Regions from separate parts of the Homo sapiens genome. Here all the other regions are linked to region 2. The links come from fine-mapping of genetic effects on gene expression. A gene starts in region 2. Each other region holds a variant in brackets. All regions are shown on one strand. Distances are between the middles of the regions.

What was found. PIP is the estimated chance that this variant, and not a neighbour inherited with it, causes the effect. A credible set is the group of variants that fine-mapping cannot tell apart.
Region 1: its variant is the best candidate, but not a certain one, in a credible set for the expression of RIPK1 in anterior cingulate cortex (GTEx, PIP 0.88).
Region 3: its variant is the best candidate, but not a certain one, in a credible set for the expression of RIPK1 in tibial nerve (GTEx, PIP 0.78).

Annotation. Positions count from the first base shown.
Region 1 is chr6:3,536,579-3,546,996 of GRCh38, reverse strand. No RefSeq gene overlaps it. Among named protein-coding and RNA genes, the nearest start is that of SLC22A23, 85 kb to the right of the region's middle. RefSeq lists an enhancer at 6,367-6,867. The variant G/C (reference allele first, on the strand shown) is at 4,455.
Region 2 is chr6:3,062,767-3,073,184 of GRCh38, reverse strand. RIPK1 (receptor interacting serine/threonine kinase 1) reads right to left here and starts at 4,691. Exons shown (of 11, transcript NM_001354930.2): 1 at 4,524-4,691. RefSeq lists silencers at 4,033-4,822, 8,876-8,985, 9,176-9,465, 9,496-9,545.
Region 3 is chr6:3,082,997-3,093,414 of GRCh38, reverse strand. RIPK1 (receptor interacting serine/threonine kinase 1) reads right to left here. Exons shown (of 11, transcript NM_001354930.2): 5 at 10,102-10,330; 6 at 8,007-8,156; 7 at 3,758-3,834. It also overlaps the pseudogene RNA5SP201. Among named protein-coding and RNA genes, the nearest start is that of RIPK1, 20 kb to the right of the region's middle. The variant G/A (reference allele first, on the strand shown) is at 4,709.

The DNA.
Region 1 (10,418 bases), 470 kb before region 2:
ATCCTCGCTGGGATGGGGGCTTGAGTGTTTTCGATCAGGATGTGCTAGAGAAGGAATGACATACAAACCTATACAAGATGCTGATGGAGTCCTACCAGGCTAGACTGTAATTTATGAATATAATCAAGCAAAGGTAACTTATTGGACTCTTGAGGAGAATGAGCAAACAGAAAGGAAATTAAACCAGGCAATTGGTCTGAAGGACTTTCAATTAAAAAGATTTACTGTAGGAAACAGAAGATATCTTTTATAAATTCTGACTGGTATTCACAGTGACACCTAAAAGAATAAAACCACAACAAAAACTCCTAGAACCAACTAGGTATACAGAAAATAGTTGTAGAGGAGAGAACGATCATCGAAGAAGTACAACATTAAATCAAGGAACTGAACACTAAAAAGAACACTGTTGAAAATAAAATTTGGGGCCGGTCAAATTCCCCTAATGAGCAGATACTTTTCTTACCTGACTTTTAAAGGGGCTCTTTATCCCAGGATAAAGAGTAGTATTTGACCAAAAATGATTTTTTTTCTCCACCTGTGATGGTTAATTTTAGGTGTCAATTTGTCTGGGCCACAGGGTGCCCGGATGTGTGGTTAAACATTATTCTGGGTGTGTCTGTGAGGGTGTTTCCAGAAGAGATTAGCCTTGAACTGGTGGACTGTATAAAGCAGAGGGCCCTCCCCTCCCCAAGATGGGTGGGTCTCATCTGAGGCATTGAGAGCCTCAGTAGAACAAACAGCAGAGGAAGAAAGCATTTTCTCTCTGCCTGGCTGCTTGAGCTGGCACATTGATGTTTTCCTGCCCTGGTGCTCCTAGTTCTCAGGCTTTCAGACCCAGACTGGAATCTGCACCATCGACTCTCCAGGTCTCAGCCCTTCCAGCTAAACCACCAGCTTTCCTGGGTCCCCAGCATGCAGACTGCAGATCATGGGACTCCTCAGCCTCCATAATTGGTTGAGTCAATATTTTATAATAAATCACATATATATAATATACAATTATATGTATTTATATTATATATACTAATAATAAATATGTATATATATATTATAAATATACACACATACATACACACACACATTATATACTATTGGTTTCATTTCCCTGGAGAATCCTGACTTATACACCACCCTAAGATATTGAAACTGCTTGCAACTTCCAAATTCTCATTGCATGCAATATTGAAAATTAATGCGTTTTAAACTTTTCTTTTTTTTTTGAAACAGGATCTCACTCTGTTGTGTAGGCTGGAATACAGTGGCAGGATCATAGCTCACTGCAGCCCTGAACCCCTGGGCTCAGGTGACCTCAGCCTCTGGAGTGGCTGTAATGACTGGCATGCACCACAATGCCAGCCTCATTTTTAACAATTTTTTTAGTAGAGATGGGGTCTCACTATGTTTCCAGCCTGGTCTCTAACTACTGACCCCAAGCAATCCTCCTGCCTCAGCCTCCCAAGTAGCTAGGCCTACAGGCGTGAGCCACCATGCCCAGCCCCCAAGGCTATTTTTTAAGGAATGGATACTAGAGGGAGAAATATGAATTAAATTCTAGATCATTTAGGATAACCCAAGTGATAAGGAGAAGAAAAGGGAAGTAAGTGCATGTTACAATTCTTGGCTTACATGAGGGCTGGTGGTTATGAATAATGTTTACTTAACTTTGATAGAATCATGTAGAATAAAATACATTTGTTATAAAGGTGACCACTGTTAGAATAACACTTAGATGTAATATTTCATATTGCTAGGGGAAGAAAAAAGGACAAAAAATGATCAAAGAAGGAAGAGGCAGGAAAGGTGAAAAGAGGAAGCAATAAGAAATCATAGTGAATAGAAAACATAAAATAAGAAGGCAGGAGAAAGATTGGATATGACGTTAATCACAATAAGTAATAATGTACATGGAACAAATTATTGCCCTTGCTATGTCTTATATTTGAAAATAAAAGAATAAACAACATAAAAAAGCAAAAATTAGCTAAATGGTATTTTAAGGTACATACCTAAAACAAAATGATAAAGAGAAAAAGGTAGAAAATAAAGAAGTGGGCAAGGATATATCAGGAAAATGCTAACAATGACAAATGGCAAAAATACCAACATCACACAAAGCACATTTTATAGTCAAAAACATCAAATAAGGCTGAGGAATTTTATTGATAAAAGATAATATCTCTAAAGAAATTGTGGCAGTCATATACACTTACACACCAAATCACATTGCAGAGACCTACTTCTATTGAAAGAAAAATAATTTAGGAATTCAAGGTTATTTTGGTAAAATCACAATGAGCTTTAAAACACTTATATCTAAATTTAATAATTTCATTAGATAAAGAGTTAATACGATTAGAGCATTTGAATTGCTTACACAATAAGCTTTGTTTAGTAGACATACTATTTCTGTACAAAACAGAAAATCTTTTCTAAATGTTAATGGATAATTTATAGAAATTGTTCATAGACTGTGCCTTAAAGAAAATCTTGACAAATTCAGAGGCAAAGATAGATAAATAGCAATTGAACATACCACATTCTGGCAACAAAATATAGCCCTCCACATCTAACCTAGAAATTTAAAAGCATTTATAAATAACTCTCAAATTAAAGATTAAATAATTATACTAAGATTAATTAATTAGAAGATAACATAAAAAAGAACTCTACATTTCAAAGTCCATGGAATGTGGCCAAAACTCTTATCAAAAAAATGCAAAAATTGTCAAAAATACTTCAAAAAGCAGCCTCCTTTACTGTTCCAAGCATAGATTCTGGAGTCAGGTTATGCAAGCTCAAATCCCAGCTTTCCTGCTTACTTAATTTGTGTCATTTTGGAATAATTACCTAACCTCAAGGTGCTCCATTTCCTCATATATAAAATGGGGAGAATAATGTCTATCTTTAGGGTGTTGTGAAAATTAAATAAGGAAATCCATGTGGCCTCCTTTCATAAGTGGTCTCTGAGGAGAAAGAGAGAAAGGGGAGTAGGGAAAGAGACATAGACAGAGGAAAAGATAGCTAGATATCTAGATAATAGATGATAGGTAGATAGACATGGCAGAAGATAAATGATAGACAGAGGTAGATATACATGGTAGAGAGATACGACATAGACAGATATACAGGATAGATAGATATAAGTAGGTGCATGATTGATAGATGATAGATAGATAGATAGATAGATGATAGATATAGATGGATGGATGGATAGACAGACAGACAAATAGACAGATGGATAGATTGATTGATAGATGATAGATAAGCAGAAAAGAGAGAAAGGGAGAAAGATGGAGACAGAGGGAGAGAGAGGGAGAGATTGATCGATTGAGAGATTTCAATTGAGATTTCATAAGTGTCTCTGAGGAGAAAGATTGAGAGATTTCAGCACTGTGATGTGTTGAATCATGTTCTCCAAAATTCCTTTGTTGATGTTCCATCCCCCAGTACCTCAGAGAGTGACTGTATTTGGAGATAGGACCTTCAAGGCGTTAGTTTAAGTGAGGCCACGGGGGTGGACTGTAACTCGACATGACTGGTGTCCTGTAAGAAGAGGAGATGAGGACACAGACATGCACAGAGGGAGGGTGCAGGGAGAAAAAGCCATCTGCAAGCCAAGGAGAGGGGCCTCAGAAGAGACCAACCCCCCTGACACCTTGATCTTGGACTTCCAGCCTCCAGAACTGTGAGACAGTAAATGTGTGTTGTTGAAGCTGCCCAGTCTGTGTATTTGTTACACAGCCCCAGCACACTATAATACAGACAGTGCCAGCAAACCTGCCCTCCACACCTGGCGTGGACACCATCAGAAGATGGAGTTCCACTGATCCTGCAAGCCTTGGTTGCCGGGTTTTGCGTGGTATGAGACACTCACCGAACCGAGTGTAGGTCTAATGTTAAATACGTATATTTTATACAACACCGCCCCTGAAGAAAACAACCCTCCGCTCCCAAGTACTGAAGTGGAAAAACAGATTAAATCCAATGATGGAGGGAAAATGGTCTCCGCAGGCCTCACTGAGTCCAGCATTCCATCCACTGTGCTCTATGGTCAGTCTGGGGGATTTTTCAACTGCAATTAATCTACATGCAATCTCGGCCCTATGGGCTACTTTAGAGCTTCACCTTTACCTCAGCTGTCACTCCACGGGATGGTGTGGGTGGCATCAAGGTTGGTGGTGAGAGAGAAATCCACAGATAGATCCCCAGAAACACACACACACACTGTGTGTTCAGCACGTGGGGTGGGGGCTCCACCCTCCTCCCTTGGCGATTCCTCCAGGAAGAAGTTTGCATCCAACAGCAAAAGAGGCAACAAAAAATCACTATCAATAGCTGAGCAAAAGTAGAGTTGCCCCCTCTTGCCAGTGCTGGGCTTTCAGTAGAGTCTGCTAAGGGGAGTCTACACAGCTAGGGTCCACCTCACTGCTTTATAAACCAGGGCGCCCCAG[G/C]GTCGGCTGCAAGCTGTTGACCTATGTCCAGGGATCTCTGACTGCTGAGGTTCAGAAGGTGGACGCACATGTTCTTCCTGTGCGTGGCCCAGGGGAAAATGCTGAGGCACATTCTACACAGTGCCTCAGAAGGTCTCTGGGGGAAGGAGCTCTCCATGCCCTCAGTGGGGATCAGCTTGGTAACTCTCCCCTGAACTGGCTTCCCCTCTGCCTCTGACTACCTTCCTTCTCTCACACTCCCGTTCCCTGGAATTGTTTCCCAAAGCCACCTGCACACAGCCCTGCTGCAGGCTCTCTAGGTACTCCACCCACTGGAGGACAGGTGAATCAGTACCACAGGCTTGGAGCCCAGTGTGGTGACACACGGTAAAATGTAAGGATCCAGAGCCCTTGACTCTATGGCTCCTCCTCTAGAAATGTATTCTGCAGAAATGTGCATGAGAACAAAAAGATAAACCCTTCCATCCATTAGGATGAATCCATTTACTGTGTTTGTTCATCCACTTCTGTTCATCTGTTTGTATGTTCTGTTCCAGGCAGGTGGTGACAAAGGCAGATAAGGCGCCTACTCTCTTTGCATTTGGGGAGTTAGGCAGGAAGCAACACATGAATGCACCAGCATAGCCTCACCATCATTGTTCTTGGTAGGAAAAAAGAAAAAAAAGAAAAACTAGAAACATCCAAAATTAAAGGAAAGGGGTTAAATAAAGTATATTGTGTCCTTACGAAGGATTAGCATGAAGCCATTAAAAAGAAGCCGGTCTACAAGTACCTATATGGAAAGATGGGAAAGACTTATTCAGTGAAGAAAGCAAGTTGCAGAACTTACGTCTAGAGTAAGTCTGTTGTTTTAAAGTGTTACGTATTTACACTCATACATTCACACACACAGCTACCAGGATTATATCTGAAATATTCTTGATGAATTTTTCACTTTTGCCTAAGTACATAAACCATTAGCATCCCATCCCTAGACAAGATCTGGGTTTGCTGCAGGAAGAATACAAAGAGAAAAGATAGGAATGGCTAGGAATGCAAGCAGGGCCTAGGCACGTATCTGCCTCTCTCTGATCTAACTCTCGTCAAACAAATAGTCACGCAGAATAAGCCTAATCAGTAAGATAATTTGTAAGCTGGGTTATTGTCTTGAAAGAGAATGCTCCAGAGGTTTTTATCCCCCTGAGGGCTCTCTTGTGTTGGAGAGAAGAGGCGTCTTTCCTTTAGTCCCTCTGTCAGCTAAACCAGGAGACTTGCAATTCAGCAAACGGTGGTTTGAGGTAGGAGAGAGGAGCGGAGGACAGGAAAGGAAGAGAGAAGGGCCTCTGGGTCAGAAGTCCAGGTCTTATTTTTCTCCTTTCTTGGCTTGAGCCCAGAGCGGTAGAAGCACATTCACTAAATGAAAGTGACACTTTTACAGCAGGCTTCTTCCTCTGCTGCCTCTCCAGGACTTTGCAAAGTGCTCCCTCCCGGCTGGGCGCAGTGGCTCATGCCTGTAATCCTAGCAGTTTGGGAGGCCAAGGTGGGTGGATAACCTGAGGTCAGGAGTTCAGGACCAGCCTGGTCAACATGATGAAACCCCGTCTCTATTAAAAAAAAATACAAAAATTAGCCAGGCGTGGTGGCAGGCGCCTGTAATCCCAGCTACTCACGAGGCTGAGGCAAGAGAATCGCTTGAACCAGGGAAGCGGAGGTTGCAGTGAGCCGAGATCGTGCCATTGCACTCCAGCCTGGGCGACAGAGCGGGACTCTGTCTCAAAAAAGAAAAAAGAAGTGCTCACTCCCCAGCCTCAGGAGTGGCCATGTCAACCCGGGGGGCACAGCCACACAGGCAAGGGCAGCCCTGGGTTGGCCTCAGCGTCATGCGGCATTGACACTGGGTGGACATGCACTGGCCGGCCACAGGCCTACTATGGCGGGATGTGGGGATTCCAGGTGAGGGGCATGGATGGTGGACAAGATAGAGAGAGGTTTGGGGGTCTGCAGACGGTGGTGCTGAGATGAGCTCTCCTCTGCCAGGGGAAGCCTCTCCTAGGCTCTGCACAAGCCAGGGGAGGACCAAGCTGTGAGTGACACTCCAGGTGCCTGCTGCAGATGCCAGGGGGAAGTGGCCAGCAGGCACATGGGGACACAGCCCAAGAGTGCCAGGCCTTCTGTCTTGCAAGAGGTCATTAACTGCCCCTGCTTTTCCACCCAGCCAGCAGAAATGGGGAGGGGAAGGCAATTCATAAGTCTGGGCATGTTTTGCCTTAAGAAAGTGAAAATTACCTGAAGAAATTGTTTACATTTTCAGATCAAAATTTGGGCCACATTAGACATTAACTTAAATAATTTTTTAATTAAAAATATAGCATCATTAGAAATGTTTCCCCTGCTAAGCAGTGGGTAGGGCTCAGTAGGACGACAAAATTAGATGTCGATAGAGCAAAGAATCTACATGTTTCTCTGCGCTTCTGAGTTGTAGTCTGAGTAAAAAGTCTAATAAGATTCCCAAAGCTTTACTCCTGGGAAGAGGGACTGGACACAGGGGAGTGAGGCCCAAGGCACACTGGGCAGGGATATTTTCCCTTCTCTTTTGTACACCTTATGCTTTTTCAAATCAGGGAATGGAGAGGTATAAAAAGCAGCCCCTGGCAAACATTTGGAAAGACAGTTTCTCTCTTTCATGAAATCCCAACTCCATACTCCCTGGAGTCCTTTGAGTTTTCCCTCTTTCTGGGCCCTTTAATTACCAACTCACATTCAGTTCCTAGTTCTTCTGTCAGTGGCTGTCCAATGGTCGCAAGAGACTTTTGTTTTTCTTTCTTTGCCTAAGACCTATCAAACATCCTGAATTGGCAGGTAATGGCTATGGAAAGCAATGAGACAGTATTACTGCACATTTCATCCCCCCAATAGTTCACTCCTGGCAAATTCACTCGGGGAGAAGCATTATTTAAAAGATATTTGGGTAGGGGATAGAAATAAATGAACAGGCCACTCCAGGCTTCCTGACTGTCTCCCCTCGCCCTTCCTGTCAGCAGGCCTTGTTGTTGGGCTTGACATCTGCAGATCTTCCTTTCAACTCGGACCCACTCCAGACCTTGAGATCCCCAGGGATCATGCAGAGTGAAAGTGAGCTTGCGTCACCCACCTCTCCAGTGGACTAGAGCTCCTCAGGACTAAGATATTCTGGCTTCCTCCAGGGGAGGAGGTAGGAGAAAAATGAATAAGAGGGAAATGGGAAGGAAGAGAAGGAAGCAAACTCCCAGAAGAAGTTTGCATCCAACGGCAAAAGAGGCAACAAAAAATTACCATCAATAGCTGAGCCAAAGTAGATCTAGTTCCTTCTGCATCCCAAGCATCACGCTAGGTAGGTACTCTCACAAAACACGGCTCATTTTTTTTAAGGTGGATTTTATTTTACTCATTTAAACAGCTTTATTGAGGTATAAACCCCACCCACAGAGAGAATATTTCTATCCTCGCTTTTCAAATAAAACCATGAGGAACAGAGAAGTTGAGCAACTTCCCCACCATTGCAAAGGTTTTAGATAACGGGGCAGAGATTTGGTGCAGAACTGTGAAGTCTCTGAACTCCCCTCACCCCACTCACAATAATGCTCCTGTTACAACAAAGAACGAAGAAAACGAGCGTTCCTGGGATGAATCCATATTGCTCCTGTGGAGTAAACCATGACTAGGAATGCAAGCGGGGCTGAGGCACATATCTGCCTCTCTCTGATCTAACCCTTGTCAAACAATGTGATTTCCTTTCCACACCAGAGTGGAGATCCTTTCTCTGCCCTATGGCTGCACACCTGCAGCCTTTGTCCATAATTTGTACACTTTACTTCCTGAAAATACCGGCCTGAAATAGCAAAGATAAGATGGTGCTCCATCTGGGCTCTGTGTCCATGGAAATGTCGGTTTCCTGGCTGACTTCACCCTGTCCCTGTAGCCCTTGTCTGTCATTCCTGTTGGGGGCCATGCCCTGCTTTGGAGTGGTGTGTGTCCCTGTTGGCATGGCTTCCTGAGAGCTGTCACTGAACCTGGGAATCAGAAGTAAACCCAAAGGGAAAGCATCTGCTCCTAAGAGCAGAGGGTCTGATATTCCTTCAGGTTATACCACAAGCAAATGTATGCACAGAGGGCGAGTGCAGGTGGAGTGGCCAGCCACAACCACTAGAGCACAGTGACAAGGCTGGCACACCCCCACGCACCCTCCCTGCTCATCGCAGACCCTTTGTGAATACGTCACTCCAGGAGAAAGGGAAACAAATGCCCTGCTAGGACTTCACCTTCTTCTTCCATGTGAATGTGGGTCATAAGCACACGAGCATGCCTCCCTGAACCCCAGTCTTCTCATCCCAGCCATGCTGCACCCTCAGAGCTGCCCCTGGGGCTGGGGGCCCTTAACACACTCTCAGGTAGGATCCTGGAGGTCATCCGAAACGTGGGATTTTTAATGCTTGTTCAAAAGCCCACAGACACCTCTCTAGGACCATGTCACCAGGTAGCCATTTCAGACGGGGTCTGGGGACAGCTCCACCTCTGAGTGTCTCACTGACTTTTTCATCCACTTTGAATGCTTTCTTTATGTGATGTCAATTTATTGATCTCCTGTTGTATGCCAGAGCGCTCTTTAATGTATCCTCCTCTGCACTCCTCTAGATATCGTCCCAAAGCCAAGGGTTAGCCACTGGGGAGATGGGAAATCCATCTATGTCCTCCGAGAAGCCAGAGAAGACTTGTGCACCAATAGCTTGTACACAAGCCTGTAGTAAGAATGAGGAACACATGTCCCGCTCCTGCCTTTGTGATAAGGCCTGAAGAGGAGCGAAGACCAAGGCCTGAGATAAGAAAGGGTCCATCCAGGCCACCTGTGCTTGTCCAGTCCATGCAGAGCCAAGTTCTCCTGACACAGAAAGCACTGTGGGGGAGCTGGCACGGGGCCCTGGGTTCCACAGCACAGCCCCCCTTCTGAAGCACCTGCTGGACATTATGCATCACCCCCGTCCATGGTGACAGCCAGAGCTCAGGAGCCCCTTTTTTTGATAACAGTTGTAAAAGTCCTACATTGAAAATATGAAAATGTCATTAAGGTAACCTATCAGCTGAAAGGCATGGTCTTATTTTAGAACTATTGTCTGCATTGGGTGTGATATCTTTTTTTTTTAATTTTACTTTAAGTTCTGGGATACATCTGTAGAACGTGCAGGTTTGTTACATAGGTATACACGGGCCATGGTGGTTTCCTGCACCTATCAACCCATCATTTGGGTTTTAAGCCCCGCATGCATTAGGTGTTTGTCCTAATGCTCTCCCTCTCCTTGTCCCCCACCCCCCGACAGGCCCCCGTGTGTGATGTTCCCCTCCTTATGTCTTAACAAACTCCCTGATCCTGGGATAACTCCTCATTCAGATAAGCAGGAAATCATAATAATAGCTAACCTTGTGGACTCTGCCACGTGCCAGGCCCTCAGGACTCAGCATCCACCAGCTCATTAAATACTCAGACAACTTTCCAAGCTGGAAACCACCACTATTCCCATATTAGAGAGGGGGAGCCTGAGGCACCGAGAGGTTTATTAACTTGCCTTAAGGTCCCTCAGCTAGCAGGTGGCAGAGCTCGACCCAGATGGTCGAGCACCGGAATGTATGTGCCTCCATGGAAAATAAATATTTAATTTCCAGCTTTGGGTCCCTAGTAAGATCCTCAGTTATGCCTCAATGAACCAGTGAGATTAGATTAACAGTAGAGTGAGAGGATATGAGGGCAATTTTCACTTGTTCTAACCCAAGAATCCAAACTAGAATCTCTTTTCCCTAACGTCACTTCCAAACTTAAATGGGGCCAACTTTCTCTTGACATGACAACATGGGCCTTTTATTCTGATGAATAAATTGCAATCTCTTAGTATCATGCCACTTGAAATATGGTTTCTTCTTCCCACCCTGAGAAGTACAACATGGCCGCTGGTTATG
Region 2 (10,418 bases):
TATATGTAGATATATAGCTATATTTGTCTATGTGTATATACGTATATGTATATATTTGTATATGCGTATATATGTACATATGTATATATTTGTGAAAACACGTTTGTTGCCTGCTTTATGTCTCTAGCTATGGTTGGCCCAGCCGCCCACATGTGTTTATCCACACGGGTGTTGTTTCCTTGGGCTTTGAGAATGCCAACATTCTCAGCTGGGATCACTCTGTCAGCAGGGCCCTACTGACCAATCCTAGTGAGAATGAGGTAGGAGCGGGTGGAGACAGAGGGCATAAAAGATAACATTGATTTTAGGCCTCCTTTTTCATTCACTACACATCACTGGAGCAGGCAGAACTGTGAAGCCTTCCCCATTCCATAAGGGTCATCCGCCCCACCCTCTTAGGCCATATTCTTCCAACTTCTTGCCTGGTTAGGTGTCAGAGAACTGTCATTTTGTCAAGGAAGCCATCCTAAGTCTTCCCATTAGACACTTCCATAGGTAAGACAGTACTGTAATTGAGAATTATTTCTCATGAAGTTCACAGAAGGCAGGAAACTTGTCTTGTGCACCATCTCCAGAGCCTAGCAGAACCCAACGTATGCCGGCCCATCATCAATTGAATAACTATTTTAAAAAGAGAACTATTTAATTGTCCAAAAAAATAAAAATAAAAATATTGTTAAATGAATTACGGCACACTCCTAACAGAATATTATATAGCCATTCAAAATTGTTTTTGACGAATAAATCTGTAAAAATTATATTCACATTTGTGTGTGTTTTATATATATATATATGTAAATAGATAAAGATATAAGTACAGATAAAAAAGACATAAAGACACCAAAATGTTAACAAGGATTGTATCTTGATGATAGGTTGATTTTTACTTTCTTCTTTACACTTTTACTATGTTTTCCAAATTTTCCACAATAGACATGAATTAAATGTAAAATTAAAATTATTTTTTTGAAAGGAATAATTCCTTGACTCAGTATTTCTTTACTCTGAGGGATCAAATCAGAGATGCTGATAAAGATTATGTGCAAAGCTGTTCCTGGTAGCATTACATAGAACAGCAAAAGTAGGTAAAACACTTAGCATGTACAGAGGAGAGAATCAGTTATGCCCATCAACACTGAAATATATCTAGCAGTTTGCAAAAGCGATGTTGTGAAAGAATGTTTAATAATATTTAAAAAAGGTCACAGACAGTAAAGAAACAGGCAGGAACTACAACATGCCCTGAAAAATGCCCTTTTGAGTAAAAGGTTTCTACTTTATGAGGAGTCCTATTTGGTATCTCTTCTTCAGTCTCAGCCACATCTCCTCAAATTTGTCAAGACCAACTAGGACCTGCAGGTGCTGCTGTGTGCGGTGGAGTTTGGGAAGGCCTCTAGTTGGGTCCACTGGACTTTGGGAGCTTAGCTCCTGACCCAAGTCAGTTCTCCTTACAGTCTTGCGGTTTGCTAGTTTAGTCTGTTAATCTTCTGCATCTTCTGCATGGTGTTCAGTGATTTCTTTTGTTTTTCCTATCCACCCCTCTTTTTTCCACATGAAAGATTCAACTTTATGAGCACTGAATATCTTAGGAAGGCCTTGTGAGTAGTTGAAGGATATACAAAAACAGTGAATTTAGGCAGCTTATATGGCCATACTGCATAACCATATTATTACAAAGCCATGACACAGAGTGACAAAGACATGCTGGCCTGTTATAGCAAATAATTTTAACTAATAATTACGTCCATTTGAAGGAATTTGTAAATGTTTTGCATAAATATTAATTCAGGGACTCAGGACAGTGAATTTGTTTCTATTGAAATTAATGTGAAATCTCAAGGAATTTCACGATTACCTTCTAAGGCAGGGTAAGTATACATATCAAAATATTCTAATTAACTTTTTCCCCATTTTTCTATGATGACCACACATAACAAGAGAATGGCAGAAAATGCTGGTTGCCCACCTGCCATTGCCCCCTTTCTTCCCACTAACAGAATTCTGATTTTGCTCAGCTATCCAAGTGACCAGAGGATTTCTCCAACTTCCTTGATTACAGCAGCCTGATGCTTTGCCTGGATAAACAAAAGCTCTGAGCAAGGAAGAGACTTAAGGACCAGCAAGAGACAAGAATTGAAACAGAGTTTAAACAAGCATCATAACCCCTGAAGCAAATTTTATCATGATTTCAATTTGCAAATAAAGAAACTAAGATTTGGAGCTAAGTGATTCACCTAAAGTGGTAGGATCCTGGAATGAAATATTTGTCCCTTCATTCAAACTTTCACTATTGGCTCACTAATACATGCTACTTCTCTAGATAGCAAATAATCTGTCTTCGGAAAAATCCAGATGCAAAGACCCACCCTTACAGCCTTACTCATCTATATTAAATAAATGTGCGACAGTCAGAAACACGGAGAAAGTACAGAATAAACTTTTTAAATACAGGAAGGTGAGGTGCAGGGGCTCATGCCTGTAATCCCAGCACTTTGGGAGGCCAAGGAGGGCAGATTGCCAAGAGTTTGAGACCAGATTGGCCAACGTGGTGAAGCCCTGTCTCTACTAAAAATACAAAAATTAGCCAGGCATGGTAGTGCATGCCTACAATCCCAGCTTCTTGGGAGGCTGAGGCAGGAGAACTGCTTGAACCCGGGAGGCGAAGGTTACATTAAGCCGCGATCGCGCCACTGCACTCCAGCCTGGGTGACAGAGCAAGACTCTGTCTCAAAAATAAAAATACACGGCTCATGTATTTTTGAAATATATGGTTCAAAATCAATGTTCTACAGATTAATACAGTCAACCTTTTTTGCCAGAATGTAATATCCAACTAAAGCATGGGAAATTAAGTATTTTCTTCAAATTCCCAGATCATATGGATGTTAACACGTTATAGATTAATAAGCACCAAAAAGTAAGCTGCCCAGTTTGAAAGAGGCTGTTTAAGAGCTTTTCTTAATACTCATTAATATTCACATTCCAGAAAGTACAACATATCTCTGAGGCTCAGTATAGTTCAGACAGAGGAAAATGAGTATTAAAAGTTATCATTTTTGCTATTTTATCAGTAATAATGATACACTCCAAATTTCATTTTAAACAAGCCTAGTCTTCACTTTTTGTGAATAGAAGAGCTGCAGTATTCCCCATTTCTTTATTTATTTTTTTTTTTGATACAGAGTCTCCCTCTGTCGCCCAGGATAGAGTGTAAGTGGCAATCTCGGCTCACTGCAACTACCGCCTCCTGGGTTCAAGCCATTCTCCTGCCTCAGCCTCCCGCGTAGCTGGGATTACAGGGACCCGCCACCACACCTGGCTAATTTTTGTATTTTTAGTAGAGACAGGGTTTTGCCATGTTGGCCAGGCTGGTCTCGAACTCCTGACCTCAGGTGATCCTCCCACCTCGGCCTCCGAAGTGCTCGGATTACAGGAGTGAGCCACCGTGCCCGACGCAGTATTCCACATTTCTAACAAGACAATTTCCTCTTGACTCAGTCCATCTTCCTAGCAGTCACAGAATGCAGATGAGTACTAAGACATTGCACATTTCAAAGTTCACTTCCTGCCTTGGCTTCTTCAAGTGTAAGTCAGGGAAGAATTAATCATTGGAACAGCCTCCTGCTTTGCCCAAAATAAAAAAGAGCTCTGATTAAGGGAGAGCCAAATGGTCAGCAAGAGAGAAAGAACTAACAACCCCAGACCTCCCCCTGCCCCCGCAACCCCCGCATCCCTGTGAGGCTTTGTCAAATGCTTAGGGAAGGAGGATGCAGCCTATCCTCTTCCCAACCCTCAAGAGGGTCCGCAGCACTTCACAAAAGCACCTGCCAGTGACAGAAGCCTGCTAGGGTTACCACATTCGTCCCCTCAGTCGTCTAAGATCACGCAGAAATGCTTTTGTTTTTGGAACCTGCTGCGGCCTCAAGCGCAACAGTAAAAGGCCCTTTCAAAGGGCTGGTAAGGGAAGAGCCCAAACTGTTTTTTCTTAATGATAGGGCACTAGGAGCCCACCTTCTCCACCAAAACAACATTAATGGCGTGTGGGACTGCCTATTCCACCCTCACGCGGTAACCGCGGCCCAAAGGCAGGTCTCCGCCCGCTACCAGTCCAGCGCCCCGACCTCTGGCACAGAGGCGGCCAGCGGACTCCGGATAAGCAGAGACACCTAGCGGAGCACCCCTGACTTCCGGGAGCGCCCGCGGCCCCGCCCACCGCCCGACTTCCGGTACCGGCGGGGCCCGCCCGCCGCGCGCACCCCGGGCAGAGTCCCTCTCCTTCCGGGAAGCCCGCGGCCGCCCCGGCCTCCACGCAAGCACCCGAGCGTTACTTTCGTTTCCGCGGCAAACGTCTGGAGGCCCGGGTGAGGGAAGAAGCGGCGGCGGAGGGTTGGGGATTACTCCGACGCCGCGGCAGCCTTGCCCGGGCGTGCTGGGGGAGGGCGCGCGAACCCCGACCAGGGGGGTCACCGGGACTGAGCCCGGCGGCCTCCGGAATGTTCCCCGCGCGGTGCCAGTCCGCTCACCGCGCCCTTCTCCGTGGCCGCGCCGTCCAGCCAAGTCCTGCCGCGCTCCGTCGGCCCCGCCCGGATGGCCGCGCTCTGGCGCCCCAGCTGTGGGTCCCCTGGAGTCGCCGCGCTCCGGCAGCTGGCCCGCCGTCCGCGTCGAGCGCGCCCGGCTGGAGGGCGTGGACTGTTCGCGCTGCCTCCTCCCCCTGCCCCGGCCCTTGCCGGGGAGGAGGACCGCGAGAGCGCCGCCCCGCCGCTCGTGGGACCTCGCGCCCGGGGTCTGAGTCCCGGAGCTCTCTTGCGGGCTAGAGGATCGCGGACTTTGTTTTCAAGCGAGTGGGGCGGCCTACGTAAAAGAGGAAACCGAAACCTCCGCGCGCACGAGAGGGAGAAGGGTCTGGAGGGAAGCACTGGGTGGATTACAGCGGGGGCGCTATCCGGAGGATTCAGAGCTCTGCGGGTTAGCATAGGCAAGTTAGCATTCCTCTACCTTCATCTGTAAAGTGGGGCTGTTGAGGAGGAAATGTGATTATTTTGCAGCCCTTTAAAATGGTAATTGTGAAGTCTCGAGCAAAGTTGGAACTGCATGCTATTCATGTATATTAAAAATCAAATAATAAAATTATATGCACATCAGGCCGGGCGCGGTTGTTCACGCCTGTAATCCCAGCACTTTGGGAAGCCAAGGCGGGCGGATCACTTGAGGTCAGCAGTTCGAGACCAGCCTGGCCAACATGGTGAAACCCCATCTCTACTAAAAAATACAAAAATCAACTGGGCGTGGTGGCGGGCACCAGCAATCCCAGCTACTCGGGAGGCTGAGGCAGGAGAATCCCTTGAACCTGGGAGGTGGAGATTGTAGTGAGCCGAGATCGCGCCACTGCACTCCAGCCTGGGTGACAAGAGCAAGATTCCGTCTCAAAAGGAAAAAAAAAAAAAGCACAACAGGATTACATACTGTGAAAAGATATGTATGTCAAGAGAACTAGCCACGTTCACAACACGAGCCACAGACTGGGAGAAAATATTTGCAAAAGACATATCTGATAAAGCACTGTGACCCAAAATATACCAAAAAAAACCCTCTTAAAATGCAACAATATGAAAATGTACAACTTGATTAAAGGCGGGCAAAAGCTCTGAACATACACCTCACCATATGTATATGCATATGAAAAGATGCTCAACATCATGTCATTAAAGAATTGCAATTTAAAAAAACAAATACTATTACACATTTATTAGAATGGCTAAAATTCAGAACACTGACAACAACAAATGTTGATGAGGATCTGGAGCACAAGGAACTCCCATACATTCCTAGTGGGAATGCCTAATGTTAGAGTCTGGAAGACATTTTGGCAATTTCTTAACCAAGCTCTTCTTACCATAAGATGAAGCAACTCCACACCTTGGTATTTACCCAAACGAGTTGAAAGCTTATGCCCATACAAACACCTGTACAAGAATGTCTATAGCAGCTTTATTCATAATTGCCAAAACTTGAGGGCATCCAAGATATCACTTAATGGGTGGACAGATAAGCTGTGGTACATCTATACAATGGAATATTAAGTGCTAAAAAGAAATGAGCTCTGAAGCCACAAAAAAAAAAAAAAAAAAAAAAATCCTGGAGCAATCCTAAATGTATAAATCTAAGTGAAAGAAGCCAATCTGAGAAGACTACATAATGCATGATTCCAACTATGTGACATTCTGGAAAAGGAAAAACTACGGAGATAGTAAAAAAGATCAGCGGCTGCCAGGGATTTGCAGGGAAGGAGGGATGGATAGGTGAGGCACAAGGGATTTTTAGGGCAGTGGAGTCTGACGTTACAGGGTTGGGTACATCTCTATACATTTGTCAAATGTATCTTGAATATACACAAAGAGCAAAACCTAACAAACTCCGGACTTTGGCTGATAATGTATATGTTTTATCCATATTGGTTCATTTTTGTAACCATGAATCTATGTTGGTTTATCAGGTGTGACAAATATTCCACAGTAATGCAGGATGTTGATGGTAGGGGAGGCTGTACAGTCCAGGATGTTTGTGGAAGGGGATATTTTCTTTCTGCTTAGTTTTGCTGTAAACCAAAACAGCTCTAAAACAAAGTCTATTCATTATTTTTTAAAAGATGTACACATATCAAAAAAGACGAAAGGCAGAGCTATTCACTCAGCAAAGCTTTCTATCTACTGTATGCCAAGCAGGTACTAGATACAAGAGCATCTGGTGATAGATACAAGAAATACAAAAAGGAATTCATTCCTTCAGTAAATATTTACTGAGCACCTGTTCTAGGCACTGAAGACTCGGTTGTGAATTAAACACAAAAAATCTCTATGTTCTGGCCGTGTGTAGTGGCTCACACCTGTAATCCTAGCACTTTGGGAGGCCAAGTCGGGCGGATTGCCTGAGCTCAGGGGTTCCGGACCAGCCTGGCAAACATGATGAAACCTCGTCTCTACTAAAAATACAAAAATTAGCTGGGCGTGGTGGTGCATGCCTGTAGACCCAGCTACTCAGGAGGCTGAGGCGGGAGAATTGCTTGAACCCAGAAGGCGGAGGTTGCAGTGAGCCAAGATTGCTCCAGCCTGGGTGACAGAGCCAGACTCCGTCTCAAAAAACAATAAAAAATAAAAAACTCCACGTTCCATTCGTGGAGCTTGCATTCTAATGGGGAAGACAAAAAGTTATTGCCCATCACTGTCCTCTAGACATCATGTGACCTTGGGAGGTTGGAAATGCGTTGTTTTTGCTTCATTTTGTGTTCAGTGTTTTAACTCAGAAACATCTATTTGGGAGCTTTACTCATTACTCCCAGCAAAAGCCATGAGTGTAGACTGTGCATGAGATGAAGGAACTGGTCCTTGCAGAACACCAGAATGGAAAAGGCAAGAAACAGCCCAAGGTGAGGAAAGAAAACCAGCGAGAACAAAGAGCTGGTACTATCTCTGAAGCCCGTGGAGGCCAAAGTGTGAATATGAGGGGGTAGGTCTCTTGGCCACAGGCCTGAAACCAAATGAACCCCCACCCCCAGGCTGCAGTTCCCAGTGCACTTGGAAATGAGACCCTGACTCCTCCAGGTGAGCCTGGGAGACCTCCCTGACTCCTTTCCATCTCCCCCTCCTCCCCCACACCCATCTCCAAGGCCTGCCCTCTACGCCCACATTTCTTCCCACTTTGGATCCTGTGCCTGGTCTAATGCCCAGGCCCCCTCCCGAGCCTCTGGTCTCCCTAGAGCCACTCCCCACTGTCGGGACACCTCATCTGTGCTCCCCAAAACGCCACGCAAAGCACTGGAGAGCCTTGGACAATGAACACAACCCGCACCCCCAGCCACCCCCGCCACAGCCGCACGGCACCTCAGAAAGCCGTGTCTTTTTTTTTTTTTTTTTTTTTTTTTTTGAGACGGAGTCTGGCTCTGTCGCCCAGGCTGGAGTGCTGGAGTGCAGTGGCGCGATCTCAGCTCACTGCAAGCTCCGCCTCCCGGGTTCACGCCATTCTCCTGCCTCAGCCTCCCGAGTAGCTGGGACTACAGGCGCCCGCCACCACGCCCGGCTATTTTTTTGTATTCTTTTTTTTCTTTTTTTTAGTAGAGACGGGGTTTCACAGTGTTAGCCAGGATGGTCTCCATCTCCTGACCTCGTGATCCGCCCGCCTCGGCCTCCCAGAGTGCTGGGATTACAGGCGTGAGCCACCGCACCCGACCAGAAAGCGGTGTCTTAATCCTCTTGTCCTTCCTCCTAAATCTCCTGGGGCCCTTAGGATCCGCTTAAAGCCACCTCGTTAAAACGGTTTCTTCTCCACCTGCCCCTCCCTTGATCCAGCCTCACTGAGGTCACAGCCTCCACCTCTGGCCATCCTGAACCCCTCCCAAAGTCACCTCTTCGCAAACTCCTGGTCCCCCTTAGAAGGCCCCACGTCCATCACGGGATTAATTCCACTCACCCTCAAACACCGCGGCCCGGAGGCTCTGATTCCCACCCTAGAGGAGGTTCTCTTGACCCCGCCGGCGCGACCCTCCCCAGCACGACCCTTCCTCCCGAAAGTGATTCCTCATCTTGCTGGCGGGTCCCACAGACCGCAGGCTCTGCAGGCGAGCGCTGAGCCTGGCTCTGCAGATTCTCAGTCCCTGGAGGAGTGCTCCGGGGAAGGAAGGGCCCCATCCGTTTCGCTGAGTTACTGAAAGAATTAGAATGGGTAAGAGTGCTCGGATTTAGAACTGGAGACTAGTGACTTTGAAAGACAGAAGAAGAACCAGGACAGACGTCATCCTGCGGATCCCAGAGCAGAGAGGAGCAGTGAGAACACAGGGCCGGCAGGTGGGGAGGAGGCTGCAGGGGAGGGCTTCGGCCAGGGAAGGGCAGCGAGGAGGCGCCGGGGAGGGCGGCGTCCGCGCTGGCTGGGAGCTGCGGAGGCGGAAACCGGCTGCGCGCTGCAGGGGACCCCCCACAGACCGTTGCTGACCCCGCCGAGACACCACCGCCTCCCCGGGGCTCTTGGCTGAGCGACCTCTCCTGTCTTCAGGTCCCATCTTTCGGTGGCAGCCGGTGGACCTGAAGCTCGCCACTCCCGTGCTCCACCCCGGCCGTGCGCGGGGACGTCCTCACCTGCCACCTAGTCTCCGTGTCGCGCTCCGAGCCTGGACGCCGACTCCCGAGGCGCAGGACCGGGCCCTGCTGCTGCGCTCGCCGCGGACTCCCACTCGGCCCCGGCGGGCACCGCCTTTTATATAGTAGCTTGTGACGCCACGGAGCTTTTCCCACACTTGACGAGCAGTCTAACTGGGGCTCCGCCTGCCGGGACTAGCCGGGGAGGCGCGCGCGTTCGCGCGGCGGCGGAGGGCAGGGCTAGGCGCAGAGGCAGATCCGTCTACCCCCAGTCCGCCCCGCCCAGGGCGATGTCCGCCAATGCTCCCGCCAGCCTGAGGCCGGCCAGGTTCCCAAGGCGCGCGCTCGGCCTCACCCACCCCCGGCGCCAGGGCCTCTTCAGGACCGGGTTCAGAACCTGACAGCCCAGAGAAGTAGGTTGGGAGCCTGCGGCGTCCAGGGCCTCCGCGCGAAGAAACAAGGCGTCTGCGGGAAAGGAGACGGAGCCTGGAACCCTGGGCTTTTCTACTTAAGGAAGCGAAGGTCGGGTGACAGCCAAGCTCCCTGTTCCAGTGGGAAGGCCCCATGGGTCTGTGTTCCACGCCTCTTGTCATGAATATGGGGGATTCACTTAGAACCAAAGCATTTGTTCCAGGTCCCACCACTAACTAGTACTAGTCCTGGGCCCAGAACCAGGCGTCCTCACTCCTAGTACCCAAGCCCTTCTCTAGCCACAGGTGTTTGGGCTGCGGTGTGGTGTAAGCAGCCCCATTTTCCCGCAAAGTGATGGGAAGAGACACTGAGTCACACGGGCTCAGGACACTCCTTGTGTCCTCTATCAGGGGATCCAGAGGCAGGGACTCGGGGGAGTTGATGCAGCAGTTCGTGATGTCATCAGATATCCCCCCACCCCCTTCCATCTCAGGCTGGACTCAATTGGAAGCATTTCATGTTGGCACGGTGACGTCCAGAGGAAGGGAACAGACAAATGGCTCTCTCTGGAGCACGGAGCGTCGCCCAGAAGCCGTGCCCTCCTGTTTCAAATTGACCAGAATTAGAGCTTTCTCCTGAGGGCCTGAATTAGGGAGAAGCAAGCCAGGTGCCTAAGGCACAAAATTTCAGGAGGGCCACACGCATAGGTGCCAACCCTGCATTTGCGCGGCCCTGAGAATCAGAGCCTCCTTCAATTTGACACCCTAGGTGCCTAGCTTGTTCTTATTAAGGTTGGGTACGGTGGCTCACGCCTGTAATCCCAGCATTTTGGGAGGCCGAGGCAGGCAGATCACGAGGTCAGGAGCTCCAGACTAGCCTGGC
Region 3 (10,418 bases), 20 kb before region 2:
GGTGCGGCAGGTAGGCGCTCTGCGGTTACTAGGTGCGGCAGGTAGGCGCTCTGCGGTTCCTAGGTGCGGCAGGTAGGCGCTCTGCGGTTACTAGGTGCGGCAGGTAGGCGCTCTGCGGTTCCTAGGTGCGGCAGGTAGGCGCTCTGCGGTTCCTAGGTGCGGCAGGTAGGCGCTCTGCGGTTCCGAGGTGCGGCAGGTAGGCGCTCTGCGGTTACTAGGTGCGGCAGGTAGGCGCGCTGCGGTTACTAGGTGCGGCAGGTAGGCGCGCTGCGGTTACTAGGTGCGGCAGGTAGGCGCGCTGCGGTTACTAGGTGCGGCAGGTAGGCGCGCTGCGGTTACTAGGTGCGGCAGGTAGGCGCGCTGCGGTTACTAGGTGCGGCAGGTAGGCGCGCTGCGGTTACTAGGTGCGGCAGGTAGGCGCGCTGCGGTTACTAGGTGCGGCAGGTAGGCGCGCTGCGGTTACTAGGTGCGGCAGGTAGGCGCGCTGCGGTTACTAGGTGCGGCAGGTAGGCGCGCTGCGGTTACTAGGTGCGGCAGGTAGGCGCGCTGCGGTTACTAGGTGCGGCAGGTAGGCGCGCTGCGGTTACTAGGTGCGGCAGGTAGGCGCGCTGCGGTTACTAGGTGCGGCAGGTAGGCGCTCTGCGGTTACTAGGTGCGGCAGGTAGGCGCTCTGCGGTTACTAGGTGCGGCAGGTAGGCGCTCTGCGGTTACTAGGTGCGGCAGGTAGGCGCTCTGCGGTTACTAGGTGCGGCAGGTAGGCGCTCTGCGGTTACTAGGTGCGGCAGGTAGGCGCGCTGCGGTTACTAGGTGCGGCAGGTAGGCGCGCTGCGGTTCCGAGGTGCGGCAGGTAGGCGCGCTGCGGTTCCGAGGTGCGGCAGGTAGGCGCGCTGCGGTTCCGAGGTGCGGCAGGTAGGCGCGCTGCGGTTCCGAGGTGCGGCAGGTAGGCGCGCTGCGGTTCCGAGGTGCGGCAGGTAGGCGCTCTGCGGTTCCGAGGTGCGGCAGGTAGGCGCTCTGCGGTTCCGAGGTGCGGCAGGTAGGCGCTCTGCGGTTCCGAGGTGCGGCAGGTAGGCGCTCTGCGGTTCCGAGGTGCGGCAGGTAGGCGCTCTGCGGTTCCGAGGTGCGGCAGGTAGGCGCTCTGCGGTTCCGAGGTGCGGCAGGTAGGCGCTCTGCGGTTCCGAGGTGCGGCAGGTAGGCGCTCTGCGGTTACTAGGTGCGGCAGGTAGGCGCGCTGCGGTTACTAGGTGCGGCAGGTAGGCGCGCTGCGGTTACTAGGTGCGGCAGGTAGGCGCGCTGCGGTTACTAGGTGCGGCAGGTAGGCGCGCTGCGGTTACTAGGTGCGGCAGGTAGGCGCGCTGCGGTTACTAGGTGCGGCAGGTAGGCGCTCTGCGGTTACTAGGTGCGGCAGGTAGGCGCTCTGCGGTTACTAGGTGCGGCAGGTAGGCGCTCTGCGGTTACTAGGTGCGGCAGGTAGGCGCTCTGCGGTTACTAGGTGCGGCAGGTAGGCGCGCTGCGGTTACTAGGTGCGGCAGGTAGGCGCGCTGCGGTTACTAGGTGCGGCAGGTAGGCGCTCTGCGGTTACTAGGTGCGGCAGGTAGGCGCGCTGCGGTTACTAGGTGCGGCAGGTAGGCGCGCTGCGGTTACTAGGTGCGGCAGGTAGGCGCGCTGCGGTTACTAGGTGCGGCAGGTAGGCGCGCTGCGGTTACTAGGTGCGGCAGGTAGGCGCGCTGCGGTTACTAGGTGCGGCAGGTAGGCGCGCTGCGGTTACTAGGTGCGGCAGGTAGGCGCTCTGCGGTTACTAGGTGCGGCAGGTAGGCGCTCTGCGGTTACTAGGTGCGGCAGGTAGGCGCTCTGCGGTTACTAGGTGCGGCAGGTAGGCGCTCTGCGGTTACTAGGTGCGGCAGGTAGGCGCGCTGCGGTTACTAGGTGCGGCAGGTAGGCGCGCTGCGGTTACTAGGTGCGGCAGGTAGGCGCGCTGCGGTTACTAGGTGCGGCAGGTAGGCGCGCTGCGGTTACTAGGTGCGGCAGGTAGGCGCGCTGCGGTTACTAGGTGCGGCAGGTAGGCGCGCTGCGGTTACTAGGTGCGGCAGGTAGGCGCGCTGCGGTTACTAGGTGCGGCAGGTAGGCGCGCTGCGGTTACTAGGTGCGGCAGGTAGGTACTCTGCGGTTACTAGGTGCGGCAGGTAGGCGCGCTGCGGTTACTAGGTGCGGCAGGTAGGCGCTCTGCGGTTACTAGGTGCGGCAGGTAGGCGCTCTGCGGTTACTAGGTGCGGCAGGTAGGCGCTCTGCGGTTACTAGGTGCGGCAGGTAGGCGCTCTGCGGTTACTAGGTGCGGCAGGTAGGCGCGCTGCGGTTACTAGGTGCGGCAGGTAGGCGCGCTGCGGTTACTAGGTGCGGCAGGTAGGCGCGCTGCGGTTACTAGGTGCGGCAGGTAGGCGCGCTGCGGTTACTAGGTGCGGCAGGTAGGCGCGCTGCGGTTACTAGGTGCGGCAGGTAGGCGCGCTGCGGTTACTAGGTGCGGCAGGTAGGCGCGCTGCGGTTACTAGGTGCGGCAGGTAGGTACTCTGCGGTTACTAGGTGCGGCAGGTAGGTGCGCTGCGGTTACTAGGTGCGGCAGGTAGGCGCTCTGCGGTTACTAGGTGCGGCAGGTAGGTGCGCTGCGGTTATTAGGTGCAGCGTATCCTGTGTTTCCGTTACGTCAAGTGTGTTCGTCATGTTCTTTCTGTCTTCTATATCCTTACTGATTTTTGTTTGCTCGTTCTATCAATTGAAGAGAGATGTGTATTAAAATCTTCAGTTTTAATTGTGGATTTGTCTGTTTTTCTTTGAGTTCTGTCACTTTTGGCTGGTTGATTTTGAGGTCATGTTATTGAAGGTGGATCCACATTTAAAGCGGTTATACTTTCCAGATGAATTGGGCCTTTTATCATTATGAAATATTCCTGATTGTTTGAGGGAATGATTTTTTGCCTTAGAGTTTATCTTAGCTGATTCTAATCTCTTTTTTAAATTATATTTTAAAGTCTCTGCCTGTTTTATTTGTCGTAGTCTCCTGTTCATGATTATGGGGTAGGTTGCTGGAAGATGGATGGCAGTAGCTTGATTCCAGAGTTGGCAGGGGGGCGGGGTGGTCTCCATTCCTCTTAGTTGATTGGTTCCTAACTGGGCCTTGTCATGCCCCTCTAACCCCAGAAACCACCTCCTTGCTTCAGTCTTGGGCAGATGCTGCTGCCATCTGTTGCTAAGTACAGGGGAAGGAGGGAGAGAAGCCGACTTTCCTAAATAGCATAAATGAGGTTCTCAGATGACTCCCCTGTCAACATCCCAGGTGACTGTGCTGTTGCTTCTGCACACTGACCCAAGACTGCCCCTCCGGTACTTCTTCCTCAGCATTATGTCTTGGGCTAGTATTCCTTGTCTGTTATATGTCTCAGCAGAATAATTCTGTGGTCTTTCTATCTTTCAAGAATTCCTCAAAATGGCTGATCCACTTATGGTACTTTCCAATCTTTGCCAGTGACATTGTGCTTTTGTTTTCATATTGCTATATATGTTTTCTCTCATTTCATGAGTTTTGAAGGAGAAATGGGTCCAGTATGCCAACAGGATGATATGTGCAGACAATTGCTCATTTTGTTTTATATGTTTACCAAGCTAGCTTACCTCAAATCTCAATAACAAATCACTTTGTTTTGGTTTTCATGATTGACAGTATATATTTTGCTATGTTAATATTTTGAGCATCTGCTATATTGCCTACCTTTAAACTCTTCACGTCCTCTTCTACACTTTCTTCTAATTGACTTAAATAAAAAGGCCTAAATTTTTCTTCAATGCCTGTAAAAGTAAAATGTACTTTAAATTTCTTAATTATTTTCTAACATAAAATAAAAATATTAGCCATCTATTATCTTTGAATTACTTACCTCAATCTGTGGGCAAAGCTTAAATAAAAATTTAAGCTCCAAATCACTGACTCTGATAGAGACTAATAAGATTAATAGACAGAACAAGGGATAGGCTAACACAGGAAACCAGGGGTTTCTGCCTCAATAGCCTGTGCTCTTTGTGCTTTTTATTCGTGCTGCAGTTTCTCTGGCTGCAACACAAACTGCTCCCTGATGTGAGTTCATCTCCAGCTGAACAGGGATGGGCGAACTCCATGTTTCTGTTCCTCTGGCATCAAATTTATGAGAGATTGGGATAGTCAGAGGAAGGATTTAGTGTAATGGGTTACAGCTGTTAGCCTTAAAAGAAAAAAGAAACTTCCAGTTCCAGGAAGATGGAGTGGACATACTTTTTTCTTAATCTTCCTTCTAAGTACAACAAAAACATCCTATATATTATTTATAAAACAAACATACAGAGTCTCTGAAAGGAGAAGAGAAGGAGGCAGACCAGCAGGAAACCTCGGGATCAGATGAAACACACGATAGTGAGTTCACTGGATTTTCTCTTTTCCTCATATATCTCAGACTTGGCTGAAAAGGTGGCAACCTCAAACCATCAAGAGCCACAGATAAAAAAAAATCTCCAACTAAAGCCTGCTCTTTCTAGCCAAAGAACTAAGCAAGGGGCAGCAAGGGACAGACAGAAAACCTTTAGCCAGTCTACAGCCATGCCATCCTGAATATGCCCAAACTTGTCTGATCTTGGAAGTTAGGCAGGGTCAGGTCTGGTTAGTACTTGGATAGGAGAAAACTTTTAGTCA[G/A]CAACCACTCTGTTCCAGCCAACCACCACAGAAAAAACCCTGTGGCTCCAACCCCACCCACAGCAGCTAAGGCCAAGTGGAGAGCCTCAACATCCAACCGCATGAGACAGTAACAACGTAACCCAACACCCCCACCGGGGTAATGTCAGAGAAGGCCCAACAGGAAGCCAGGGCTGTCCTACCTGCCAGCTGATAATGAGCGCCTCCACTCCCATGGTGTCAGGAGAACACAAGAATAGCCTGGATTTGCCCCACATGGCAGTAACAAGACCACCCTTCCCTTCCCCACTGGGGAAGTGTCAGAGGAGGTCTAGTGGAGAATCGGGACTTTTAACATTGTCCAGTAGTAATGAGGTACCTTCACCTCTGTGTCAGTGGGGACCGTGTGGACTCTGCCAGAATTCCCACCCCTGATCAGCAGTGAAGAGGAGCCTCTGACCTTAGGTGTCAATAAGGGCTGAGTCGAGAGGCTGAACTTCTACCTCTACCCAGCACTAATAAGGTGGCCACCACTCTTCCCTTGTCAGAGCAGTGTCAGGAAAGTTCAGTTAAAACAGAAGGCTTAAAGAGGATACAGAATCTCCAAACATAGGAAGAAAATGTACAAGTTTCAACAGAAAAATTACCCATTACATTAAGAATCAGAAACTGAATGAAATAAGACAATCAATAGATGCCAATACTGAGATGACAGCAATGTCAGAATTACCTGTCAAGGATTTTAAAACAGCCATGATAAAAACGATTCAATTAATAGTTATGAACCTGCTTGAAACAAATGAAAAATAGAAAGTCTCAGCAAAAAAGGGGAGAATATAAATTTTAGAGCTGAAAACTTTAATGACCAAAACATAATAAAAAGCTCGGTAGGCCGGACACAGTGGCTCACACCTGTAATCCCACACTTTGGGAGGCCGAGGCGGGCTGATCACAAGGTCAGGAGATGGAGACCATCCTGGCTAACACGGTGAAACCCCGTCTCTACTAAAAATACAAAAAATTAGCCAGGTGTGGTGGCGGGTGTCTGTAGTCCCAGCTACTCGGGAGGCTGAGGCAGGAAAATGGCGTGAACCCAGGAGGCAGAGCTTGCGCCACTGCACTCCAACCTGGGCGACAGAGTGAGAGTCCGTGTCAAAAAAAAAAAAAAGCTCAGTAGACAGGTTCAACTGTGGAATCGAGGAGAAACAGAAAAATCAGTGAACTGGAAGACAGAATGATAGAACTTACCCAGTCTGAATAAGAGAGAGAAAATTAACTGAAAAAAACAAACAAAAACAAAAAAAACAAAAAAAACACAAAGCCTCAGGGACCTGTGGGACTATAACCATAACCAAAGATATAGTTTTTATGTTGTCAGAATTCCAGAAAGAAAAGAGAAAGAGGGTGGGGGTTAAAAAGTACTTACAGAAATAATGGCTGAAAGCTCCCCAAATATGGTTTAAGAGGCATAAACCTACAGATTTAAGAAGCTGAGCAAAACCTAAACAGAATAAACCCAAAGGAATCCACACCAAGATAAATAACAACTAAATCTCTGAAAAATAAAGACAAAGTCTTGAAAGCAGCAAGAGAAAAATAACACCTTCCCTATAAGGAAAAAAATTTTAGAATGACAGAGTTCAGACATATCCTAAAAGAATGATTAAGGAAAGTTCTCTAAACAGAAAGGAAACAATAAAAGAAGACACCTTGGAGAATCAGGAAGGTTTGATTTTGTTCATGGCAGGTAGCACCTAAAATCCTTGGAGTCTTCTAAGAGTGTCTTTTGGGTGGGGTCAGAAAACTAGGCAACTTCAGAATGGGGGCTAGCAACCAGAAAGACCAAGCTATAATTAGAAGGTTGGGACTTTCAGCTCCACCTTTGACTTCCAGTGAGGAGAGAGGGACTGGAGATTAAGCTCAAGCACCAATGACCATGATTTAGTCAGTCATGCGTATGTAATGGAACTTCCATAAATCACCTTAAACGGTGAGGCTTGGAGAGCTTGAGGTTGCTGAACACACAGAAGCACTGGAATGCGGTGTGTCTTGAAAGGCTATGGAAGTTCTATACACCCTCCTCCCATACCTCACCTTGTACATCTCTTCCATTTGGCTGTTTCTGAATTGTACCCACTGCAGTAAAAGGGGAGACGTAAGTAAAATGTTTTCTTGAGTTATGTGAGTCTTTCTAACGAATTACCAAACCTGAAGTGGGGCTTGTGGGAATACTCAAATAAATTTGTAGCTGACTAAGCAGAAGTGTGAGGAGCCTGGGTACCCCATGCTGGTGAGGATACAAGAACCTGCATCACTCGGACACCGAACATAAAATGGCACAGCCCCTCTGGGAAAATGTTAGGGAATTTTTAAAATAAACTGTACATGAAACTACCATACAACCTAGCTATTGTACCCCTGGGTATTACTCCAGAGAAATGAAGACTTATATTCACACAAAAACATGTCCACGAATATTTACAGCTGCATTAGTCCCAACAGTTAAGAACTGGAAACAAGTCTTTCAAGGAGTGAGTAGTTAACCAAACCGTGGTACATCCACACCATAGAATACTGCTCAGCAAACATCCCGGCACCTTTCCTCATCCCTGTATGACAAGGCCAATCTAGACGGCAAAATACTTTCTAAAGATGCCAGCTAAACAAGGGAGGGGATGGAAATAAAAGAAGTGAAGAAGCAAGAAGGCTGGTCAAAGCCACCTAAGTGCCCATAGACGGACGAATGGATAAACAAAATGCACTCCATTCATACAATGGAATATTATTCAGCCTTGAAAAGGAAAGAAATTCTGACATATGCTACAACACAGATGAACCTCGAGGACATCATGCCAAGTGGAGTAAGCCAGACACAAAAGGACAAATACTGTATGATTCCACTTATATATAAGGCACCCAGTGCAGTTAAATTCACAGAGACAGAAAGTAGGATAGGGGCTGCCAGGGGCAGGGAGAGAGACGATGGAAAGTGAATGTACTATGGGACTGTACTTACTGCCCCTGAACAGTGCACTTGAAAACAGTTACAATGTTAAATTTCATGTTACGTATATTTAAACCCAAGTTAAAAAGTTAATTACAAAAAAAGGAAACAAGAAGGCCTTATGTGCCATCATGCTTTTGAGAGAGAGGGCTTCTTTGCACTGAATAACATGTTTGAAATCTAGAAAATCAGTTTAAAACCACAAGTCAAGTCGAACTCAGTTTTCTGAGGATTCAAACCAAGTTCCTAACAATATGTTACTAGGAAAATCACCACACAGGATGCATCCTACACAGTCAGAAAAGATGCTCTTACCAGGAAATGTCGGCCGAGCTTCCGGATTCGCTTCCCAGCAGAGCTTCATGAGACTGATAATTTCTCTTGGGCAGTACTCAGTGATGTCATCCACATCTGGCCTGTTCCCAGATTTTATGCACATTATCAACTGCTGCTCACAGATAGCATCTACAAAGCAAAGACTTTCTTTCAGGTCTTGCTCCTCTCTCAGGCAGGAAGGTGACAGAACTTGAACAATACTGCTCATTTTTCTCAGCCTCTGGTACAGCTGCCTCATTCCATAGAGTGGAATGGCCTTATGACAAGGAGCTGACATATTCCACTACAGAGATGACCAAACAATATCTTAATGTCTGCAGATAAAACAAAATTCTCGACAAAGCTGCCTGCTGATGGAACAAAAAGATTATGTGGGCAAGGCCAATGGCATGCTCCATGTGCAAAAGCAAATACAGGGCAGTCCTTGTCTTTAGGAGCTCAGTTTAATGAGAGTGACTTAAAACACAGAGTGATCATTGCTATTCAAGAAGGCTGAGGCTGGGCATGGTGGATCACACCTGTAATCCCAGCACTTTGGGAGGTTGAGACAGGCGGATCATGACGTCAAGAGATCAAGACCATCCTGGCCAACATGGTGAAACCCCGTCTCTACTAAAAATATAAAAATTAGCTGGGCATGGTGGTGTGCACCTGTAGTCCCAGCTACTCGGGAGGCTGAGGCAGAAGAATTGCTTGAACCTGGGAGGTGGAGGCTGCAGTGAGCCGAGACTGCACCACTGCACTCCAACCTGGCGACAGAATGAGACTCTGTCTCACGGGAAAAAAAAAAAAAAAAGGATGTACAAGGGGTTCCAGTAGCACAAACCTGACTAAAAAGGTCCAGGAAGGCTTTGTTGAGTCCAGAAAAATTAGCAGGTAAAGAATGGGAAAGGGAGACTTAAGGAGGAGGACTCCAGGAAGAGAAGCAGGATATCAACAGACTAGAAGTTACAGAGATCATGACGCATCCCACAAATTCCTCAGTGTAACTGCACACTGACAAAGAAGGGAGGGTTAGGGACGAGGCCAGTAGAGAAGCAAAGGCCAGAACATGAAGGCCTTTTATTCCACGCTGAGGAATTCGAACTTCATCCTGAAGACCACAGAGCATCTGGGAAGGATTTCCAATATGTGAGGGAGAGGGTTGCATGTGCCTTTTAGGACGACCATTTTGGCTGCCACATGAATGGTGGACGGTGGAAGGAGCCTGCTGCAGAAACGAGGAGGGTTTGAACTGAGCAGAGGCCAGTGGAGACAGAGAAAGGCAGATGGGTTGCAGATATATCTTGAGTCATACATATATCTTGAATTCACAGGTTTTGAGATCTGATAGAATGTGGGAGAGAGGGGCAAGGGCGAGTCTGGGATGACTCTGAAGTTTCTTATTGGGCAACAACTTGGTAAAAGGATGGCGATGCCACTTCCCAAGCATATGAAGAGGGGTGAAGCGGGGCGAGCTGCAGGACAGTGTCGACAGGATGTGTTTGGGGGATGCTGCTTTGGAGGTTCCTCTGGTACCTGCGATGGATCTGACTGTAAGACAAGTGGATATCCATTCCAGAGCCAGAGACACAGATTTAAGAAGCATTTGCAAAGAGATGATCATCAAACCATGGGAGCTGATGATCACCCAAGAAGAGTATGTAGGACAACATCCATCAGTTTATGCACTTAACAAACTGCAGAGTGTCTCTATCCTACACAAGCCACGACTTACTCATCTTTATATTCCCAATGCCGACTCAAGTGCCCACAGTAGGGACTGAAAAGAAATAATTCTTGAATGAAGGAGCAAGTGAATGAGTGAAAGTATGAAGTGTATGCCTTGTAGTGTGAAAGGCTAAGTCCTCACAAGCAGAAACAATCAACTTTCCTGTCTAGGAAGAACCCTGGAATTTCACAGCACCTCTCCAGCTAATGACACACTATCGAGGTTCCTATTCATCCTATGATCACTGATTCCTAAATGGGATTACTCATTCATTCAACAAAAATTTACTGGGCACCTATTAGTTCCAGGCACAGTGCGTGTAGATGCTGAGGGGACGGCAGTGGAAAGTAAGTAATGCCTTACTTTCATATGGCTCCTTATTTGCAAATATCGCCCAGAGTACTACAGCAAAGCTGTACACATCCGACTTCTCTGTGGGCTTTGCGTTGACGTCATTCAGGTGCTCGGGCGCCATGTAGTAGAGGGTGCCGCCATTCTTCTTAGCGGTGCCGTCCACTTCCCTCAGCTCATTGTGCTCTTCATTATTCAGTTTGCTCCACATCTTAAAGGAGGCAAGGCCGAGGTCTGCGATCTGCGAAAGACATTGAGCCACTGGGATTGTTTGGTGAAGGCCGTAAGCAAATCAGATCTGACTTTCAATTTTGGGCTTATCCATTATA